2 separate regions of the Homo sapiens genome follow, and region 2 is linked to region 1. Evidence: fine-mapped expression QTL. A gene starts in region 1. The other region holds a variant in brackets. All regions are shown on one strand. Distances are between the middles of the regions. Region 1 holds the start of CNST (consortin, connexin sorting protein). Region 2 overlaps CNST (consortin, connexin sorting protein).

What was found. PIP is the estimated chance that this variant, and not a neighbour inherited with it, causes the effect. A credible set is the group of variants that fine-mapping cannot tell apart.
Region 2: its variant is the best candidate, but not a certain one, in a credible set for the expression of CNST in tibial nerve (GTEx, PIP 0.86).

What each region holds. Positions count from the first base shown.
Region 1 is chr1:246,564,226-246,569,566 of GRCh38, forward strand. It overlaps CNST (consortin, connexin sorting protein), which reads left to right and starts at 2,231. Exons shown (of 11, transcript NM_152609.3): 1 at 2,231-2,438. It overlaps TFB2M (transcription factor B2, mitochondrial), which reads right to left and starts at 2,036. Exons shown (of 8, transcript NM_022366.3): 1 at 1,601-2,036; 2 at 121-209. The coding sequence starts at 1,913. RefSeq lists enhancers at 1,726-2,005, 2,236-2,295, 2,336-2,835.
Region 2 is chr1:246,619,325-246,624,701 of GRCh38, forward strand. CNST (consortin, connexin sorting protein) reads left to right here. Exons shown (of 11, transcript NM_152609.3): 3 at 2,105-2,310. Among named protein-coding and RNA genes, the nearest start is that of CNST, 56 kb to the left of the region's middle. The variant A/C (reference allele first, on the strand shown) is at 2,487.

The DNA of each region.
Region 1 (5,341 bases):
TCAGAGATGGCTCCCTAAAAGATATTCTATGTAAAACACTGTGTGCTTAATTCCATTTCCTTAAACCACTCACAGATAGTTGAACAAACAATAACATACGTTGAGAAACTAAAAATATACCTCCAAATGTGGAATAAAAGTTTTGTCACTTTCGAGCGCAACCACTTTGGCACCAGCTTCAAGTAATGCCTGAGTCAGGATTCCAGGACCTGGCACATTAACAGAACGAAAAGTTTATTTGTACAAGAAACATAATCTCTTTCAATACCAAACTTTCATTAGATGTTTCACACGTTATTACCTGGTTTTTAAATCTGACAGCATCCGCAAAGTAGATGTCACTCTCCTTTTTACATATAAGGAAACAGGAGATTATATATACTTATTTGACTCCAGCGTCAAAAGTGATGCAGCTTGGCTTTGAAATCATTGTCAGCGACTGCAAAACCTGCACTCTTTTTTTTTTTTTTTTGAGACGAAGTCTCACTCTGTCACCCAGGCTGGAGTGCAGTGGGGCAATCTCGGCTCACTGCAACCTCTGCCTCTTGGGTTCAAGCGATTCTCCTGCCTCAGCCTCCCGAGTAGCTGGGATTACAGGCGCCCGCCACCACGCCCGGCTAATTTTTGTATTTTAAGCAGAGACGGAGTTTCACCATGTTGGCCAGGCTGGTCTGGAACTCCTGACCTCAAGGGAACCACTCGCCTCGGCCTCTGAAAGTGCTGGATTACAGGCGTGAGCCACCGCACCAGGTCAAAACTTGCACTCTTCATCACCATGATTCACTACCTCTTAGAAGAAAAAAGTCACAGCAAAATAGATTGCCTCTAGCCTATCACTTCCTCACGGACTACACGGATGCTTTAACCATCAAAGAGATTGTCAAGCCTAAACAGAACTGACTCCCTGTGATATGAAATGGTGCTTTAAAAAACTATCATTCAAAAAGCCTATAAATCTTGTGTTCTTAGCATCCTGCTATGGTCTATAGGGAATGCACGGAAGAATAAGATAACATCATTTTTTCAGCTGGCAGAGGCTTGCAACTCTTTTGGGGAGATAAGATCTAAGAGCATGTTTTATCAAAATATTGTGTAAAGTGCAAGCTGCTACAGAAATACTTTGTGGTGTCATTAACGATACAGACTCTACGCTTATGTAGTGGGCAATCTCTCCAACTAAGGAGCTTCAAACAAAGACCCGTATCTGGACGGGCGCAGTGGCTCACGCCTCTAATCCCAGCATTTTGGGAGACCTAGGGGGGAGGATCACGAGGTCAAGAGATCGAGACCATCCTGGCCAACACGGCGAAATCCCGTCTCTAGTAAAAATAAGAAAATTAGCTGGGCGTGGTGGCGCGCGCCTGTAGTTCTTGCTACTCGGGAGGCTGAGGCAGGAGAATCGCCTGAACCCGGTACGCGGAGGTTGCAGGGAGCCGAGATCGCCCCACTGCACTCCAGCCTGGCAACACAGCGAGACTCCGTCTCAAAGCAAAAGAACAACAAAAAAGACCCCCCAGTATCTAAAATAGCACCCCGAGGAGGGTCAATACGTTTGAATAAATGATGAACATCCAAGAAAATGCAATTCAGCTGGACTCACCTGGATTGCACTCCAGCAGTAGGTGTGGAGGTCTACTTGGTTTTCCCAAATAGATTTGCGCCAGGGTCTCAGCCAATCTCCGATCGGTTACGTAACGCTTAAAGTCTAAGCTGGCCTTAGACGCCTTCCTTGGCGGATTCCTGAAATCCGGTTCGGGCCACAGCTGCGGAGAGGAGTCAGAGAGCCCACAGTGGTTCCTCGCCGGCAAATGCTTTCGCGTCGCCGCTTCAGACCCTAAAATGCAAAAGCGACCAGCGCCCGCCAAGGCGGAGAGCCTCAGCCGCCGAGGAAGCCCGACCACTGGGATCCACATGTCCTTGTCTCTCAGGCCCGCTCCAAGAATCACCTAGTGCAGCTACTACAGTGAACCCCACGCAGGGTATCCCACGTGGAACATTTTCTGGCGTCCGGGCCAGGTCAAGCGGAAGTAAACACTAGAGCCTGCGCATGCGAACAGCGGAGCCTTCCTGCTTTTCTCCCTCACTTCCGCTTCCGCCTCGGCTCAGCCGCCCGAGGATTGTGAGTGGACCGTTGAGGAGAGCGACCGACCATCCGGCTGGTGTCCGGACTCGTACTCTATGGTTGTCCGCGCTCTGCGCTTCCTCTCTAGCCGCCAGTGCTCTATGCTCCGCGGTCGCGGGCCGCCAGCCTCCAGCCGGCCAGCCGCGAGGGGTGCGCAGAGGGAGGCGGGGCGGAAAGGCGAGAGGTGTCTCCTCCACCGGAGCCAGGGGAGACCCGAGCAAGCTCCGTGACAGCACGTCGGCCGCCATGTCGCCGAGTGGGGCTGGAAACAGACCCGGCGCCCAGCGGTAGCCCTCCTTGCGCCTCCGATTCCCAGGTGAGGAGAGGAGGAGCGGGATGCAGGGGACCCGCCGGCTCGCGGCCGGGATGGAAAGCCTTTCGGAAGCCTCTCGCTCCTCCCCCTGCGCTGTCCTCCTCCAGCCGCGCAGCCTCTGCCCTCCGGGTGAGGTGTAGCCCGGTCCCCTTACCTCCTCCGCCTCTCAGGTCGCCTGTTTTCCTCTCCTTTCTCAGCTACTGTGGGTCTCCTATTGCTGCGCGTCGCGCCAATTTCTCCCTCCCTAGGGGACTAGCGCCAGAAGTCGTTCCTCACCCGGCTCCTGGAGGAGCCTGCGGCTTCCACGGTCTCCGTTCCTTTCTGTTGTGTGGCCCACAGCCCGCTCTCCCCACCCTCGTGGATGGTTTTCATTTCCCCCCCACACCTGGTCCCCCCCATCACTACCACTTTGGTTGTCAAGAACCGCGTGGTGTCTCCCTTCCATTCCTCTCTCTGGGCCAATATTTTCCTTAATTTTTTCAGTTTGTGTGTTTAAAAGACTTAAAGTTAAGATTAAAAATGAAGATGTAAAAGCTTACAATTCCTTTCTAAGCTTAAAAAGATTAAGACTTTAGGATGCTTACTGTATTCCTTATGTAAACTTAGTCAAACACATCGTACTGTGGAATGCGATTTAAAAGACCCAATTTTGAAGACTAAAAATAGGATGCTGTAATGGAAATTTTGGCAGTCTTTTTTTTTTTACCTATTGGGCAATGTTAGAAGACACGGTTCTTTGAGAGTGTTTTCCGTGTTTCAGGATCAAACTTAGAGCTTTTACCCATTATCCTTACCACCAAGGCAAGAAACGGCAGCCAATCAACTCCGTGTCTTAGAATACGTACAATCCTTTCTGCTTACTCTACTGAGAGTGTAATTGAGTTTGGCATTTAAATGCACGAGGAAAAGGTTCCTAAGGAATGTATCACCCAGCAAATAGTCTGAAGATTATACTCATCTGATGAAGCTCAAGCGGATAAAGAATTGACAACTAAATATGACCTTTTGTGTATTATAAATTTGTTAGGACATCATAGAAAATATCTCATCAACTGTTGTGCAAACTGTGGGGACTCACTCATTGGTCTTAATTTGCTTAAATTCTTTTTTCGTACAGTTTTCTCACTGACAATTTTCTAGAGGTGACTTTGCATCCTCTGAACCTCTCTCCATTACTGAGCTGCCTCCCCCTCTCCCCTTAAAAAACATTTTCATAGATTCAGAAATACACTTTTTTCCCCCTCCAGGACCTGGAGTCCTAAATATTTTTAAATCAGATAAAATAGAATTATGTCTTCATGGTTCACTCATAGAAATGTGTCGTTGAATTTCTGACTTTTTAAAAAAAACACTGTGGTGGCTGGGTATGGTAGTTCATGCCTGTAATCCCAGCACTTTGGGAGGCCAAGGTGGGAGGATCACTTGCTGCCGGGAGTTCGAAGCCAGACTGGGCAACATAGACTCTGTCTCCTTAAAAAAAAAGAAAGAAAGAAAAAGAGAAAAAGAAAAATAAACACATTGTGGTTAAAAACAAAACAGTTATTTTAAAATGCACTGTCTTATTTCATAATGTTTGTGGACCAAAGTTAGCCTACTGAGTCCTAGAAAAACTGATGTCATTTTTTATTTTGCTTTTGAGTGTTATTATTTTCTCTTGGTTTTGGGAAAGAGAATTACATTATAATATTCCCTTTTTACAGTGTTGATGGTTCACTTGTTTGTAATTGAAGGTACTTGAATAATAAGAGATTTTTGTACATCTTATTTTTTTTCTGAGGTCCCAGGTGCTGAGAATGTTGATTTCACCTTAAAGATGAACTTTATGATCAGGATTTAGACATACTTTATTAGAAAAACTTGATTAGTGTGCAGTATTTCCCATCTTTTTTCTTAAGAAGTGTGGTTTTCTATCCTATGCTGTTTTTGCCTTTTTGAAGTAATTTTGAGATGGAGTCTACTCTGTCGCCTAGGCTGGTGCCATCTCGGTTCACTGCAACCTCCGCTTTTCGGGTTCAAGCAGTTTCTCCTGCTTCAGCCTCCCGAGTAGCTGGGATTACAGGCTCCTGCTACTATGTCCAGCTAATTTTTGTATTTTTAGTAGAGACGGAGTTTCGCCATGTTGGCCAGGGTGGTCTTGACCTCAGGTGATCCTCCGACCTCCACCTCTCAAAGTGCTGGGATTACAGGCGTGAGCCACCACGCCTTTAAAATACTTTTTTTCTTGCTTTTTACATTTAAATATATTTATTTATTTGTGAAGGCGGAGTTTTGCTATGTTGCCCAGGCTGGTCTCAAATTCCTGGCCTCATGCAATCCTCCCACCTCAGCCTCCCAAAACACTGGTATTACAGGCATGAGCCACCACACCCAGCCTCTTTTGGCTTTTAAATGACAACTGTAATTGGGAAATGCCAAGTGATAGTCCTTGCTTGCTGTTAGAATTAAGGCTGTAGGTCTGTAGCAGCAGTCTTCAATAGAAATACAATGCAAGCCATATAAGTAATTTAAAATTTTCTAGTAGTGGTATTAAGAAAGTAAAAAGAAACAGGTAAAATTTTAGTAGTATATTTTATTTAATCTTATATATGTTATTTTAACATGAAATCAATTTTTAAAATGAGATATTTTACATTATTTGATACTAAATCTATAAAATCTGGTATTTTATACTTACAGCACATCTCAGTTTGGAGAAGCCACATTTCAAGTGCTCAACAGTCACATGTAGCTAAATGTTACCTTACTGAGCAGCACAAATGATAGGATGGTCACATGATTTTTAAGCTGTCTTCCTACACTGAGAGTCTGATTCTGTGGGGTAAATTAAAAACTCCTCTTCCTGAAGTACTGCGGTATTTAATTTGAGAAGTTTCTATGCAGGAAGAGAGTTCTAAGTCTCTTCCTTT
Region 2 (5,377 bases), 55 kb after region 1:
GGCCTTGTACTTCTAATGGCCAAAATGTATAGCAACATAAAGTGTCTAGAAGAGAATTCTCTAAAATACAAGTAATCACTGTAGGTGATTTTTTAAAGAAGCACAGCACGTGGAATTGTAGTGTTGAAGACACCATGCTGGGTATCACTGGAATAACCCCTGTGCTGCCAGCGTTGATGTGAAATAGAAGATGACATCTTAAACCAATTACTGTACTGCAACCTAGCGTCATACGAGGCCATATACCAGGTTCAGAGGAAAGTAACTTGACTTCAAGCTCATGTTATAGGGAAAGATGTGGATTTTATTAGAGTAGAACATAAATAGGCTTAAACAGGAGGAAAATATTCTAGCCGTTAGGATCTGTAATTGCTCAGAAAGGCAGGAAGTATTTTACTTTGGGAGATGAAGAATGGACCAGTCTGGCCAGGGCAGTGGGTTTCACATTCAAATCCAAAGATATGAACTACAGGGCAGTAGAAGGCAGGGCTCTGGGCACACTCTACAGGGAGGACGGCTTCAGTCATGGTGCATACACACGATGGGCTCTGGGCACACTCTACAGGGAGGACGGCTTCAGTCGTGCATACACACGATGGGCTCTGGGAACACTACAGGGAGGACGGCTTCAGTCGTGCATACACACGATGGGCTCTGGGAACACTCTACAGGGAGGACGGCTTCAGTCGTGCATACACACGATGGGCTCTGGGCACACTCTACAGGGAGGACGGCTTCAGTCGTGCATACACACGATGGGCTCTGGGAACACTACAGGGAGGACGGCTTCATCGTGGTGCATACACACGATGGGCTCTGGGAACACTACAGGGAGGACGGCTTCATCGTGGTGCATACACACGATGGGCTCTGGGCACACTACAGGGAGGACGGCTTCATCGTGGTGCATACACACGATGGGCTCTGGGAACACTCTACAGGGAGGACGGCTTCAGTCGTGCATACACACGATGGGCTCTGGGAACACTACAGGGAGGACGGCTTCAGTCGTGCATACACACGATGGGCTCTGGGAACACTCTACAGGGAGGACGGCTTCAGTCGTGCATACACACGATGGGCTCTGGGCACACTCTACAGGGAGGACGGCTTCAGTCGTGCATACACACGATGGGCTCTGGGAACACTACAGGGAGGACGGCTTCATCGTGGTGCATACACACGATGGGCTCTGGGAACACTACAGGGAGGACGGCTTCATCGTGGTGCATACACACGATGGGCTCTGGGCACACTACAGGGAGGACGGCTTCAGTCGTGCATACACACGATGGGCTCTGGGAACACTCTACAGGGAGGACGGCTTCAGTCGTGCATACACACGATGGGCTCTGGGAACACTACAGGGAGGACGGCTTCAGTCGTGGTGCATACACACGATGGGCTCTGGGAACACTACAGGGAGGACAGCTTCAGTCATGCATACACACGATGGGCTCTGGGCACACTCTACAGGGAAGACGGCTTCAGTCGTGCATACACACGACGGGCTCTGGGCACACTCTACAGGGAGGATGGCTTCAGTCATGCGTACACACTATGGGCTCTGGGCACTACAGGGAGGATGGCTTCAGTCGTGCATACACACGGTATTACTGAAGAAGTTCCTTTCTGAGGCAGTCTAGCTAAAGGTATGCACATAGGCAGATAGTCTATTAAATTTGAACATGAATATTAAAACTGACACTGAGATTTCAGTGAAGGGTGAAGTTATAATTTATAACAGTGTTTAAAATTTGGTGTATTTCAGTAGCTGTTAGTTAAGCATTTATTTATTAGTGATTTTTGAGAAGTTTGTGTTACTTCTTTTTATTAGGAAAAACATTTGACTAGCCATTAGCTCTGGCATCTGAATTCCTGCTACTCTCCTAGCATCTAGAAGTATTTCTGATGTTATCAGACAGAGTTTAATCAGAAAGACTCAACTTCTTTAGTGGTTTCATATGATAAACACATTTACCTTCCTGTTCAGGTCTGTTTTAGTTTGGGCAAGCCAGGGCATCAAACTATATGTAATTGTTTTAATGTGTTACACCATCATGGGAATTGATCCTAACATAGGCATTTTCTTTACTTCTTAAAGGACTTTTTTCAGGAGATATTGCACCTTTAATGCAAGAAAAAGTACTAAGCGCAGTCACATATGCTGTTGATGATGAAGAAGCTGCTGAAGTAAATGCTAATGAGCAGCCAGAGGCGCCAAAGCTTGTTCTGCAGTCTCTGTTTTCACTTATACGAGGTGAAGTTGAGCAGTTGGATTCAAGAGCACTTCCCCTTTGCCTTCATCAGGTACTCTGGTAAACCCTTCACTTTCAGCCTCACGAAAATTCCCCTAGCAGTGTTTGGAATGATCTAAAATGCTGTCTTGGCTGGGCGCAGTGGCTCATGCCTGTAATCCCAGCATTTTGGGAGGCTGAGGTGGGTGGATGGCTTGAGCTCAGGAGTTCAAGACCAGCCTGGGCAAC[A/C]TGGCGAAACCCCATCTCTACAAAATATACAAAAATTAGCCGGGCATGGTGGTGCACACCTGTAGTCCCAGCTACTTGGGAGGCCAAGGTGGGACGATCACTCAAGCCTGGGAGGCAAAGGTTGCATTGAGCTGACATTGCACCACTGCACTCCAGCCTGGGAGACAGAGTGAGAGAACCTGTCTCTAAATACATAAATAAATATAAAAATAAAAAATAAAATGCAATCTCTGTAAAATTGACTGTGTCCCACTCATCACTGGTGAGCCCGGGGGAGGGTGACCCTCGTGGGATATTTGGCATATTACTAATTGATGGCCACATCTTGGCCTTGGCTAATCCATAGTTTAAACAATGGTTCACTTTTTAAATCAGTGATAAAGCTGTGTAAGAGTTTGATAAGCATCTACCAGGCACCAAAGACCCTGCTGGACATGGGTAAACAGAGATTACTTGGCAGAATATGCCCGTAAGAGAGCCCCTGCAGAACAGGAGCAACGGTTCTATCGATAAGTAAGTGTGGAATTTTGTGTTCAGTGTTAGAGTAAACATATGTTAAAGATTCAGCAGCACAAAATGAGTGATTCATTCTGCCCTGTGGACACTTGGGAACAGAAGGCGACTCTTGAGCTGGGTTTTCCAGGCTTATTAGGCGCTCAGTGGGTTAACAGAATGAGCTGGTCCAGGAAGAGATCAGCCTGTGAAAGCCGTGGCTGGGATATTATTGGAGATGAAGATGTTAAAAGAGGAGGTGAGATTGAATAGCTGGTGACATTGAGACTTTATTTTTAGGGACTGGGAATTTTTAATTCTAAGAGTGCCTGAATCACATTTGCATTTTAGAAGAAGAACTCTTTTGAGGATTGAGAGGGTGTAGATGTTAGAGGATGGAGAGGCTGGAGACTGGGGAGCCTTTAGGCCGGTGGTGAGGAAACTTTTTTTTTTACATAAGAGCTAATTCAGAAGAAATTAAGATATTTGAGCTGCATCTTATTTTTTATTGTATTGTATTGTATTTATTTATTTATTTAGAGACAGAGTCTCACTCTGTTGCCCAGGCTGGAGTGCAGCGGCATGATCTCAGCTCACTGTAATCTCCACCTCCCAGATTCAAGCCATTCTCCTGCCTTAGCCTCCTGAGTAGCTGGAATTACAGGCACACACCACCACGCCTGGCTAATTTTTGTATTTTAGTAGAGATGGGGTTTCACCATGTTGGCCAGGCTGGTTTCAAACTCCTGACCTCAAGTGATCCACCCGCCTCGGCCTTCCAAAGTGCTAGGATTAACAGGCGCGAGCCGCTGCACCCAGCCTGCATTTTATTTTTACATAAAATGAAATTAACTGGTACATGGGAATGGAGAAAGTGATTTACTTTTGTAATGAGAAGTGAATAATTTTTAATTTTTAACCCATTTAGAAAAAAAAATAGTGCAGCTGGCTGCAAGTGCCCAGCTTTACATAAACATGCTCTTTGAGGCTGAAGCAAATTTGACTAATTGTCAATGTGAAAATAAAATAGAAAAACTGTTCTTGGAGTTATTTCTAAACAGAATTTGTCTCTAATCCTAATGTAACAAAAACGGATATGATGTTACATTAGGATCAGAGACAAGAGTATTCTCAGGGCAAACAGAAAATGGGATAAAAAGTAAAGTAGGCAGGGCACAGTGGCTCATACCTATAATCCCAGCACTTTGGGAGGCCGAGGTGGGTGGATCATGTGAGGTCAGAAGTTCAAGACCAGCCTGGCCAACACAGTGAAACCTCATCTCTTCTAAAAATATACACACACAAAAAAATTAACCAGGCATGGTGGCACGCGCCTGTAGTCCCAGCTACTCGAGAGGCTGAGGCAGAAGAATTGCTTGAACCCAGGAGGCGGAGGTTGCAGTGGGCGGAGATCGCACCACTGCACTCCAGCCTGGGTGACAGAGTGAGACTCTGTCTCAAAAAAAAAGGGAAAATAGGGCCAGGCGCGGTAGCTCATACCTGTAATGCAGCACTCTGGGAGGTCGAGGCAGGCAGATTGCTTGAGCCCAGGAGTTCAAGTCTAGCCTAGGCAACATCATGAAACCTTGTCTCTACAAAAAAAAAAAAAATGTAGCCAGGCACGGTGGCGTGCGCCTGTAATCCCAGCTACTCAGGACGCTAAGGTGGGAGGATTGCATGAGCCCAGGAGTTTGAGGCTGCAATGAGCCGTGATTCCATCACTGCACTCCAGCCTGGGTAACAGAGGAAGACCCCATCTAAAAATAGACAAACAAAAAGTTCAATAGGTTTTGTCCCAATTCAGGAAAATGTATACTTTTACAAATTTGTATTATCTCCTTTACGAACTTGAAGAATGCCTTTGAGGAAATGTATACTCCTGGCCTCTAAGCTGTCACGAACTCACCATTGTTGAGTAGCACCAACATCAAGGCAGCTTTCTAATCACTCAGCTTTCACTGCATTTGAACAGTGGATTGCACGGCAATCTTTTCTCTCCTGGGAAAGAAGGTTAGAGAATACGGTGGTGGTTTAAAAGTATGGGCTTTGGCCCTACCACAAGCTAAGTGGCTTTTGGTTTCTCCTGTTGTAAAGTAATAGAGGATTAAATGGGATAATGCATGTAAAAGCACTTAACATATGTTTGACGTACAGTAAAAGCCAAAGAAATATTAAACATTTAAACTCTATTCCTACTGTCACTAATTCAGAGATTGCTCATTGGAAATCAAGTCTGGGGATCAGCAAAGAAATACTGATGCCATTAGAAAGCTGAGACGTCAGGGTGACAAGATTCGGTTGATGGCTGCCTCCTCAGCCCAAGAAGACAGAATATCCTGTCACCTCCCAAGGGACACACAAATCAGGGAGGGATGGAGATATATTTTATTCATTTTAGT